Regions from separate parts of the Homo sapiens genome. Here region 1 is linked to region 2. Evidence: fine-mapped expression QTL. Tissue or cell type: monocytes. Region 2 holds a variant in brackets; the other region holds the start of a gene. All regions are shown on one strand. Distances are from middle to middle.

Region 1 (5,124 bases), 93 kb before region 2:
GATGACCCTAGATAGCCTGACAAGGGTATCGCCTGAGAATGTGTGAAGATGACCCCAGAGAGCCTTACAAGGCTATCTTGTAAAGGATGTTCAGATTTACCTATTCAAGGCCCATCTTGAGCTCTCCCTGCCACAGCCCTGGGATCAGCCATTTCTCCCAGGAGCCCTGGTCCGTATTCATGGGGGATGGTATTTAGGAGCAGTGTTCTGGGTGCCAGGAGTGCTCAGTGCCACTGGGATGTCATTGCATCCAAGTCCTTTCAGCATTTCTGTATTAGTCAGTATTCACACTGCTATTCAGACATACCTGAGACTGGTAATTTATAAATAAAAAGAAGTTGAATGGACTCACAGTTCCACATGGCTGGGGAGGCCTCTCAGTCTTGGCGGAAGGCAAAAGGCACATCTTACATGGCAACAGATGAGAGAAAATGAGAACCAAGCAAAAGGGGTTTCCCCTTATCAAACCATCAGATCTCATGAGACTTACTCACTACCAAGAGAACAGTATGGGGGAAACTGCCCCCATGATTCAATTATGTCCCACCAGGTCCCTCCCACAATGCATGGGAATTATGGGAGATACAATTCAAGATGAGATTTGGGTGGGGACACAGCCAAACCATATCAATTTCCAAAAATAAAAATGAAAAAAAATTATTTTCCTTTTTTCCTTTTTTTTTTTCACCCAGGCTGGAGTGCAGTGGTGTGATCATAGTTCACTGCAGCCTCCATCTTCCAGGCTCAAGCAATCCTTCCACCTCAGCCTCCTAAGTAGCTGGGACTATATGCGTGCACCACCACACCCAGCTAATTTTCTATTTTTATTTTTGTAGACATGAGGTCTTACTGTTTGCCCAGGCTGGTCTTGAACTCCTGGTGTCCATCCATCCTCCTGACTCAGCCTCCCAAAGAGCTGGGATTACAGGCCTGAGTCACTGCACCTGGCCATGATTCACTTTTTTTTTTTTTTTTTTTTTGAGCTGGAGTCTTGCTCTGTCGCCCAGGCTGGAGTGCAGTGGCGCGGTCTCAGCTCATTGCAACCTCTGCCTCCCGGGTTCAATAGGTTCTGATGCCTCAGCCTCCTGAGTAGCTGGGATTATAGGTACATGCCACCATGCCTGGCTAATTTTTGTATTTTTAGTAGAGATGGAGTTTTGCCACGTTGGCCAGGCTGGTGTTGAACTCCTGACTTCAAGTGATCCATCCACCTCAGCCTCCCAAAGTGCTGGGATTACAGGTGTGAGCCACCGCACCCGGCCGACTTCTAATGAACAGAATATGGCAAAAGCCTAGGGAAGTCACTTCTGAGATTAGGGTGCAAGGAGACTGTGATGTGCGTCTTGTGTGTGCCTCCTCTTGTGTGTGCTTGCACCGTCTAAGGCAAGCCAGCTGCAGTGTTGTGAGCTTCCTTGTGGTAAGGCCCATGTACCAAGGAACTGAGGGTGGCCTTTGGGCAGCAGCCAGCAAGGCTGAGGCCCTTCTCTAATGACCTTGGAGGACTGAGTCCTTACAATATCCGTGTGTGTGAGCTTGGGAGTGGATCATTCCAGATAAGCTTTCCGATGAAACCACAACCCTGGGGGGACACCTTGACCACAACTTGGTGAACCCTTGAGGCAAAGGCACAGAGCTTAGCCACGCCCACTTTCCTGACCGCGGATACCATGAAAAAATAAATGTTCTTTTAGGCTGCTAAATGTTGGGTTAATTTGTTATGCAGAAAAAGGAACCAAATACAATCTTCTACCAGTAAGGAAGAGTGCACCTTCTTTGCTTGTCACCTTTGGATTCCTGAGGCAACGTACATCATACTTGATACGGCTGCCAAGCACTTAACTTACTGGGTGACTTGAAAGCATGCTTTTTTTTCTTTTTTTTTTTTAGACGGGGTCTGGCTCTGTTGCCCAGGCTGGAGTGCAGTGCCTTGATCATAGCTCACTGCAGCCTCCATCTCCCAGGCTCCAGCGATCCTCCCACCTCAGCGTCCAGAGTATCAGGAACTACAGGCACGTGCCACCATACCCGGCTAATTTTTATTTTTTTAATTTATTTTTTATTTTTTAAAACAGAGTCTCATTCTGTCGCCCAGGCTGGAGTGCAGTGGCACGATCTCGGCTCACTGCAACCTCCACCTCCCGGGCTTAAACGATTTTCCTGCCTCAGCCTCCCGAGTAGCTGGGATTACAGGCACCTGCCACCACGCCTGGCTAATTTTTGTATTTTTAGCAGAGACGGGGTTACGGGGTTTCGTCATGTTGGCCAGGCGGGTCTCGAACTCCTGAGCTCAAGCGATCCGCCCGCCTGGGCCTCCCAAAATGCTGGGATCACAGGCGTGAGTCACCGCTCCCGGACACAAGCATTATTATAACACTACCCACCCTGTGTATTTTTTAGCACCTATCCTGATTTTTTAAATTCAGCACGAAGTTTAAGTCCTAGCCCTGTTGATCCCAATAGCCGTAGCTCATCCATTTCGACTCCGAGCCGAGCTCCATACCCTGGACCCTCGGCGGAGGCCCCACCCCGGGACGCCAGCCCGGCCGGGGCAGCTTGCACCCCAGACCCCCAAGCCCTGCGGGGCCCAAACCTAGTCATCTGCACTTGTTCTGGGCAGGGCGGGTTGCCTTGGCAACCAGCTCCTCTCCAAGCAACTCTAGGCCTCTAGAGATGGCGTCAGTAGCCCGCGCCCGGTCCTGGAACCGCCCCCCGTGCTGCCGCCGCTTGCCATTAGCCGGCGGAGAGACGGACGCAGACCTCGTCCAATGGGAGGCTCCGCACTCCTGAAGGCGGGACTAACGCTTACCTGGGGCGCGGGTCCCTGCCGGAAGGCGGCGTCCGCGACGCAGCTGTTCACGCTTAGGTGGGCGACGTGGGCGCAGGTGGGCGCAGGTAGGCGCGTGGGGCGGCGGCGGGGTGGCCGGCGGGTCAGGGCGCCAGGAGACCCAGAGCCCCGGGGCGGGCTCCCGCGGGGCTCCGCCCCCTCCACGTGGGTGCGCGGAGGCCCGGCGCGGCGCGACCGGGCGGCGGCCCTGGGGTCCGCGGTGCTGGGGAGGCTGGTGCGGCCGGTGCGGCCGGTGCGTCCCGGCGCGGGCTCCGACACCCGCACCCGCCTCTGGGTTAACTCAGCGCGGGCGAGTGGAAGGGACTCAGCTGGCTCCTAGGTTTCAGGCCGTCAGGGCTTGCAGTGGCTCTGGTTTCATTGTCTTTCTCTGAAGACGCCCTGATTGCCCTCCGAGGCTTTCAGCTCCCACTTTCTCTTTTTCAATTTTTGAGGCAGTGTCTCGCTGTGCCACCCAGGCTGGAGTGCAATGGCGTGATCATAGCTCACTGCAGCCTCCACCTCCTGGGCTCAAGCCGTCCTCCCGCCTCATCCTCCCAAGTAGCTGGGACCACATGCGCGCGCCACCACACCCGGATAATTTTTAAAAATGTTTTTTGTAGAAATGGGGTCTCACCATGTTACCCAGGCTGGTCTCGAATTCTTGGGCTCAAGCGATGGATCCTCCTGCCTCGGCCTCCCAAAGTGCTGGGATTACAGGAGTGAGCCAACGCGCTTGGCCTCACTTTCCATCATAAGCATGCTTTCCGTTTCCTTCCTTCCGTCATTCATTCATTCATTTTTAAAAAACGTTCATTGGGTTCCTCCTGCACTGTTCGGGGCATTGGGCTACAGCTGTCAACAAGTGGAGACAAGTCTGTGATCTAGTGAACTTCCATTCTGGAGGGGAGAGACAGATGAACAAGGTGCACAGAGCAGGTGATGGTAAGTGCCATGGAGAAGATGAGAACAGGGGTTTTGAGAATGGAAAGGAAGCAGGAGGAGGAGTGAGGCACCAGAACATTCCAGGTCGAGGAAACAGCAGGTGCAGGGGAAACAGCAGGGAGCCCAGTGTGGCTGCAGCCAATTTGGGAACAGAGAGAGAAAGAGGAGGTGAGTTCCCAGAGATGCGAGGAGGGGCCAGGGCAGTCGTGTGGACCTTACCAAGTGGCAAGGACCTTGACTTTCCCTCCAAGTGGAAGGGGACAGCTTGGGAAGTTTTTTGAGTGGAGGTGACACACCATCTGATTTAGGAGTTTAAAAGCCATCGTGAGAGGTGGTGGCTTGGACTGGGTACCTATGGGATCTTAAGGGAGTCACATTCTGGGTGTATTTCAGTGGTAAACCAACAGGAGTTTGTGGTGGGTTGGACGAGTATGTGAGAAAGAGAGGATTTATGGATGGACCAAGGTTTTAAGCTTGAGCTACTATGTGAACCTCATCAGATGGATGTTTATGGAGAGGATGAACACTAGGAAGCTCAGGTTTGTGGAGGGTGATCAGGGGTATTGATTACGAATTCTTAAGCTTGAGATGATATATGTGTAGATGATATATATAAGTACATATATATGGTTATATATATAGTTATATATATACACAGTTTATACACACATCCGCATATATATATTTATTTTTATATATTTATATATATTTATATATGTTTATATATGTTTATATATGTTTATGTTTATATGTTTATATATGTTTATATATGTTCATATATATGTTTATATATATTTATATATGTTTATATATATTTATATGTTTATATATGTTTATATATTTATATATGTTTATATATGTTTATATATATTTATATATATGTTTATATATATTTATATATATGTTTATATATATTTATATATATGTTTATATATTTATATATATTTATATATATGTTTATATATATTTATATGTTTATATATTTATATATTTATGTTTATATATATTTATATATGTTTATATATATTTATATATATTTTATATATTTATATATGTTTATATATATTTATATATATTTTATATATTTATATATGTTTATATATATTTATATATTTGTGTATATATTTATAATTATGTATATTTATACATATTTATGTATATATATTTATATATTTATGTATATATTTATATATATTTATGTATATATATTTATATACACATTTATATAAATTTATATATACTTATATTTATATATATTTATATATACTTATATATTTATACATATATTTATATATACATATATATTTTATATATATATTTATATATGCTTATATATTTATATATACTTATATATATTT
Region 2 (5,200 bases):
TGGACTGCCCCAGGCCTGTTCAGAAGCAGCAGGCCTGGAGACAGAGGGGGCCTGAGTGTGGGGATGGTGACCACCCCTCTCAACCTGAGAGGCACCCGGGTCCCTGTATGTGTGTGTGAGAGAGAGAGAGCATCATAGCGCCTGCACTGCACAGAGCTGGCAGAAACAGAAACCAGCAGAGGAATCCTCTGCTCCAAGGTGGCTGAATTAGTTTCACAAAAGCCATCGCTTTTGATGTTGCTGTCCCTGTTAGTCGGGAAGTTCTTTCCTCTGTTGCTTAGGGCCCTGTCAGAGCTGGGGCCGGCAAGTCCCACGCCCGGTGATCCCCACGAAGTTTCCGGGTGCTCTCTTTCACACTGTCTTTTGCGGATGTTGATCCCTTGCCTAGAACACCCTTTCTCGCTTCCCCTCGTTCTCTCAGCAAACACTGGCTCGTCCTTGACATTTTATTTTGGGCATCAGTACCCCCGGGAACCCACCCCTGACCACTGTCTCCACACCCCTCCGCCAGTCTTTGCTGGGTTAAGCCTGTCCGCACATCCATCTCTTTCCCACCTACTTGGAGCTCTTTGCAGGCAGGGGAAGTTTTTATGTGTGCTGCAGCAGCCTGGCTGACTGTTGGATGAAAACCGTAGAAGGGGATGTATTCAGTGACGTAAAAGGCTTTTCCCCAAGGCGAGTGATCCACCAAGGCGAGTGATCCAATTTCCCCACTGAGTAGAAAGGAGAGCAGGCAGGATGGGGACTCAGCGCTTCTTATTGTCCCCGGACAGTTGTTGAAGCTTTAGAGCCTTAGATTTGAGTGGAAAGAGAACTGCGAGGCCCCAGGCACTGCATCCTCAGGATGGCAGGAAAGGAGTGGAAAGGCCACGGCCAGCTCCTGGCCGAACCTGCCATGCACCATGAGACGCTCAACCTTGGGTGAATATTCTAGAACAATCAAAATGCTTTCAAAATGACTCTGGAATGTTTATTTTCTTTTGTAGTAATGAACCCAGGCTTTAGCAACAATTAACATCCAGCTCCTAGGAGCCAGATGCTTAGGAAAGGCTGCTGTTTTCACAGGGTTTCCACGTGGAGAGCTTACGCACACTGATTCCTATCTGTGCCTTCCTGGGCTGTGATAAGAAATGGTTCATTACATAGGTGGATGGTTTTGATTTTTGTAGCCTTTTGCTTTTTACAATTCCAAACTGCAGAGTAGTGAGAGTGAATCAGGTGACTTGGCTTAGACTATAAACAAAGAGAATGCCTCTCTTTTTCCATGGATAATAGCGAGCATGTTTGCGGCTCCAGGACGGGCTCTGGGGGCCTGAGACCAAGCACCTTGCTGGGCCAGTGAGCGGGCTGGGCACCTGTGCCTGCAGCTATGGGCGCCAGTTCCCTGGAGGAAGGTGGAACAGCATTCTTTTGTTTACTTGGCTTTTTGTTCCCTAACTGGGTGTGAGGCTAATTCCCTCTCCAGGTACATCAGACCAGGGAAAAACAAAAACAAACAAAAAAGACTTCCTCAGAAATTCAAAGACATGGCCAAGAACAGAGAGTCTCTACTGCAGACTCTGGGCAGGCTTGGCACCTGCCGGGGCTCCTCAGTCGAGCCCCGGTTTACTAGGCGTGGCCTTAACCTGCAGGGAAGTGCTCTGAGCCGCAGATCTTATCACCACCTTGGTTGTTTCCCAGGGAGGAGCCAGCAGGTTATTTCTCCTCATCACACTAGCTGTGGTAGCGACAGTGGTCTGCAAGGCTTGCTTTGGTTCCAATTAAAATGGGGAAAGTCCTTGGCCTTTGCAGGAAGGGACCTGGGTGTGGCTCTGTGGGGATGAACAGACACCTGCCCCACCTCCACCTTGTCCCTCTGCTGCTCAAGGGGGTATTTTGTTTGCACACGGAGGCTCCTGGGTAGACAGCACGCTCCTAAGAAACTGACTTCTGGTCCCGGGCAGCATCTCATTTTGGGATCTCAAATTGGAGCGAAACGTTATTCTACTCTCCAGACTGGGTTCCCTGTCCTCTTGGCTACCTGGATGGTGTCTTGGGGTCCTGAGCCTTTGAGACCCCTGGACAGATGTGGGCTAACTGGACAGCCTAATGCTGGTCAGTTGGGCAGGTGGGTTAGTGAAAGCCCTGGAGAGCAGAGGAGCTGGCAGGCAGGAGGGAATGGCTGGGAAACACTGTTGACAGAAAACAGCACCGTGGGATCGTCGTGTGCATGACACGGTCGGCCGGGTTCTCTGGGTGATAATTTCCTTCTGCAAAGGCAAGACCTCGCTGTGGTTGGGTCATTAAAGGCCAGGCGGCAGTTATTTTTTCAGGATTCCAGGTGACATCCTAGGGGCTGTGAGAGCTGCAGCTCCCTGAGGAGCCCCTTCTTCTCCCTGCCCCAGTGAGCAGCATGTCCCTCTTCCGACTGTAAATTACACGAGCATATTTCCCCATGCAGCGATCTGTGCAGTATGCCATTGATTCATTGTATGATAGACATAATCAGCCTTTACATCCTAACCTAAGACCCACATGAGGTGCGCGCCCTTTGCCCTTCTCTCTTCATCAGCCTACTGGGGCTTATGAGTTGCAGGGACTCCAAGTCAACTTTCACATTTACATTCTGCCCTAAATCTGTGTTCCTCTGTCCTCCATCCTCAGGATATGTCCATGCTGGCTAGAGAGGCAGGATGACACGTGGACGCCAGCACGGATGTGTGTGGCGTCGGGCAGTGAGCTGCTCTGGCCCCGACCTCTTCTCTGTGAAAAGGCACAACAGTATTCAATACATATAAACTATGTTCTTAAGTCACTTGTCTTCAGAGGCCTTCTTCATTGAGGAAGACAACAGGGGTTCTGGTTGGGGAGCCAGGCCTTACAGTAGTTCTTGAAGGAGCTGCACAGCAGGTCATGGGTACTGTGAGTGTGCACTT[C/T]GTCTAATTATTAACAGTGCCTCCGTTCACTCTCAACGGTGCCCCAGTTAGGACGGTAGACTATCTCATCACCACTATGCGTGAGGAGCCTGGGAACATGGTCAGAACCATTTTACTCATACAAGTTTGCAGAGGCCTTTAAAGCAAGCCTCTTGGCCCTCTGTTATTGAATGCTGGCCTCTGCTAGGTGCTGCAGGTAGCAAAAGATAAAAGATGTCGTGCTGTTCCGTGTGGACAGGAGCTGGCTATTTAAAGTGGAATGGAGGACTCAAGTACATCTTCATGGGCAGGGAAGAGATCAAAGGCTGTGGACGACGAATACAGAATTATCCTCTGGTCCACCACGTAGCATGCATGCAGAGATAAGCCACTGTGACCAGTCACATCAAGATTCATAGACTTATGCCTAATTTAGAGAACTGACTTGCCAGGTTTGTAATACTAACTTAATAGTGGGTTTTCTGCTGCTGGTAGTGGTGGTTTGGCGGCTGGAGAGCACTGCCTTCCAGTGAAGCTTTGAAAGAGCCGTCCCATGCCCTGCCAACTGTCCAAGACAACTGACAGCAGATCCGACACCTCCATGTAGACACAGATCCAAAACTCACTTTAAAATACTAATCACAGAAGGGGCCGAAAGCAGTCACCATAGTGGCCCAGGAGAGCAGGATCAGTGGTGCCCTGTCGGACATGGGAGAGCCGGTGGCGGCGCTGTGCCGCCTACGCCAGCAGCAGATTCAGCTGCCATCACCAGGTTAATGACCGAAAGCCCGCCCCCGGGGCTCAGCTCGGAGCGCGGCCGGAGGACAGCGGTCCCCTCCTGGCAAGGGCACGGAGCCCCGCAGTGGGCAGCGGCCAGAGGACCCGGGTCCCAGTAAGCGCAGCGCCCGCCGTGGGAGCCACAGCAGCTTGGGGCTGGCTCCCTCCCCAGGCGGAGACTGGGGTGTGCCCCACCGACCCGACCCAGGCTCCCGGGCCCCACTCACCGGCTTGCTGGGCGGCGGCCGGCGCAGTCGCCGCCGGGCGGGCAGCTCGGGCTGGCGGAGGCGGCGGGGCTCACGGCGCGCACGCCGCCCGGGCCCTGTGTACACACGTGACCGTCGGCCCCGCCCCCGGCCGGCGAGCGGCAGCCATGCCTGGCCCCGCCCCCAGCCTTGGTCCCGCCCTGGCCTCCGCCCCCCGGCCCCGCCCTCGCGGCTAGACCGCGGGGAACCGCTCGGACCAGTGAGGTTGGGGGGCGGTGGCGGTGGAGGCAGTGCTGGTTGTGTAACCTGAGACCAGCCATTTGACGAACTCGTGCGAGATTCCCTGTGGGAGGACACACACCCAGGGCTCTGGGAGTTTTTGAGAATTCTCTTAGTGCCCAGCGCGGTTTCTTTTTACAGGCGCTGGTGCCTATTTTGCTGAGTCAGAATATACCCTAATCTGCAGGGTGCAGGCCCCACCGCCCTCCAAAGGAAATGAGTGGCTGCAAGTTAGTCCTTCCAGGTACACCTGCCCCTCTTTCTTCACCGAAGTTTGCTTGCTGTTTCCAAAGTCACCAATTACTTCCTGGTTTTAGGATTTTCTTTGTAAACGGAACACTCACAGGAAAGCCGTTTAAAGAAACACATTGCTGCCTGATTACTTTTGTAGCTATTGTTACAAGTTAAACATTGGAAAAGTTGAAACAAGGACATTTACTTTGCTGTAATTTTTGAGGTGAAACAGTCCCCCCTGCAGCACATTCTGGTTCAGGATCTAAGAACATTTCTGAAAATCAAAGCATGTGGGTTGCACAGTTCCGCATAGACTTGCTGTGAGCTGCGGGCCGAGTGGAACACCAGCAGGAAGAATAGCGGCCACTGGCCCTCCGCTGCATGATGCTGTGGCCTACTGTGTTCAGGGATGTACCTCAGCCACCTTCCTGGACAGGACGGCTTCCTGACCGTGGGTCGGAGTGGGACGTCGGGATCAGCTTTCTATTCCAGCGGGAGGGCAGGGAGAGGCTCACCACGGCCCACGCCTGCTGATGTGATACTGACTTGCTGCCCAGCCCGGCACCAGGTCCCTGGCACAGTGGATGCAGCCCGGGCCCTGTGTGCCCAGAGGTGCCGGGTACTGATCTTACTTGCCAAAGTCAGTCACAAGCAGCCAACACCGATACCTGAGGGCGTATTCTGTGTCAGGTTCTGTTCTGAGCCTCAACCATTGTTTTGAGGTAGATACGTCCGTATTTCATCAAACCTAAGACACGATTGATTAGTGTTAGCTATGCCATTACTTTATGGATTACTAAAAAGAAGGCC

What was found. PIP is the estimated chance that this variant, and not a neighbour inherited with it, causes the effect.
Region 1: CHLSN starts here. The variant in region 2 is fine-mapped to the expression of CHLSN in monocytes (TOPMed, PIP 0.99).

The regions. Positions count from the first base shown.
Region 1 is chr7:1,135,957-1,141,080 of GRCh38, reverse strand. It overlaps CHLSN (cholesin), which reads left to right and starts at 2,834. Exons shown (of 5, transcript NM_001318252.2): 1 at 2,834-3,766. RefSeq lists silencers at 2,425-2,564, 2,765-3,214, 3,225-3,274 and an enhancer at 2,605-2,704.
Region 2 is chr7:1,043,357-1,048,556 of GRCh38, reverse strand. All of the region lies in intron 2 of CHLSN (cholesin), which reads left to right. It overlaps GPR146 (G protein-coupled receptor 146), which reads right to left and starts at 4,011. Exons shown (of 2, transcript NM_001303473.2): 1 at 3,899-4,011. RefSeq lists silencers at 3,512-3,561, 3,742-4,231 and an enhancer at 4,337-4,892. The variant C/T (reference allele first, on the strand shown) is at 2,916.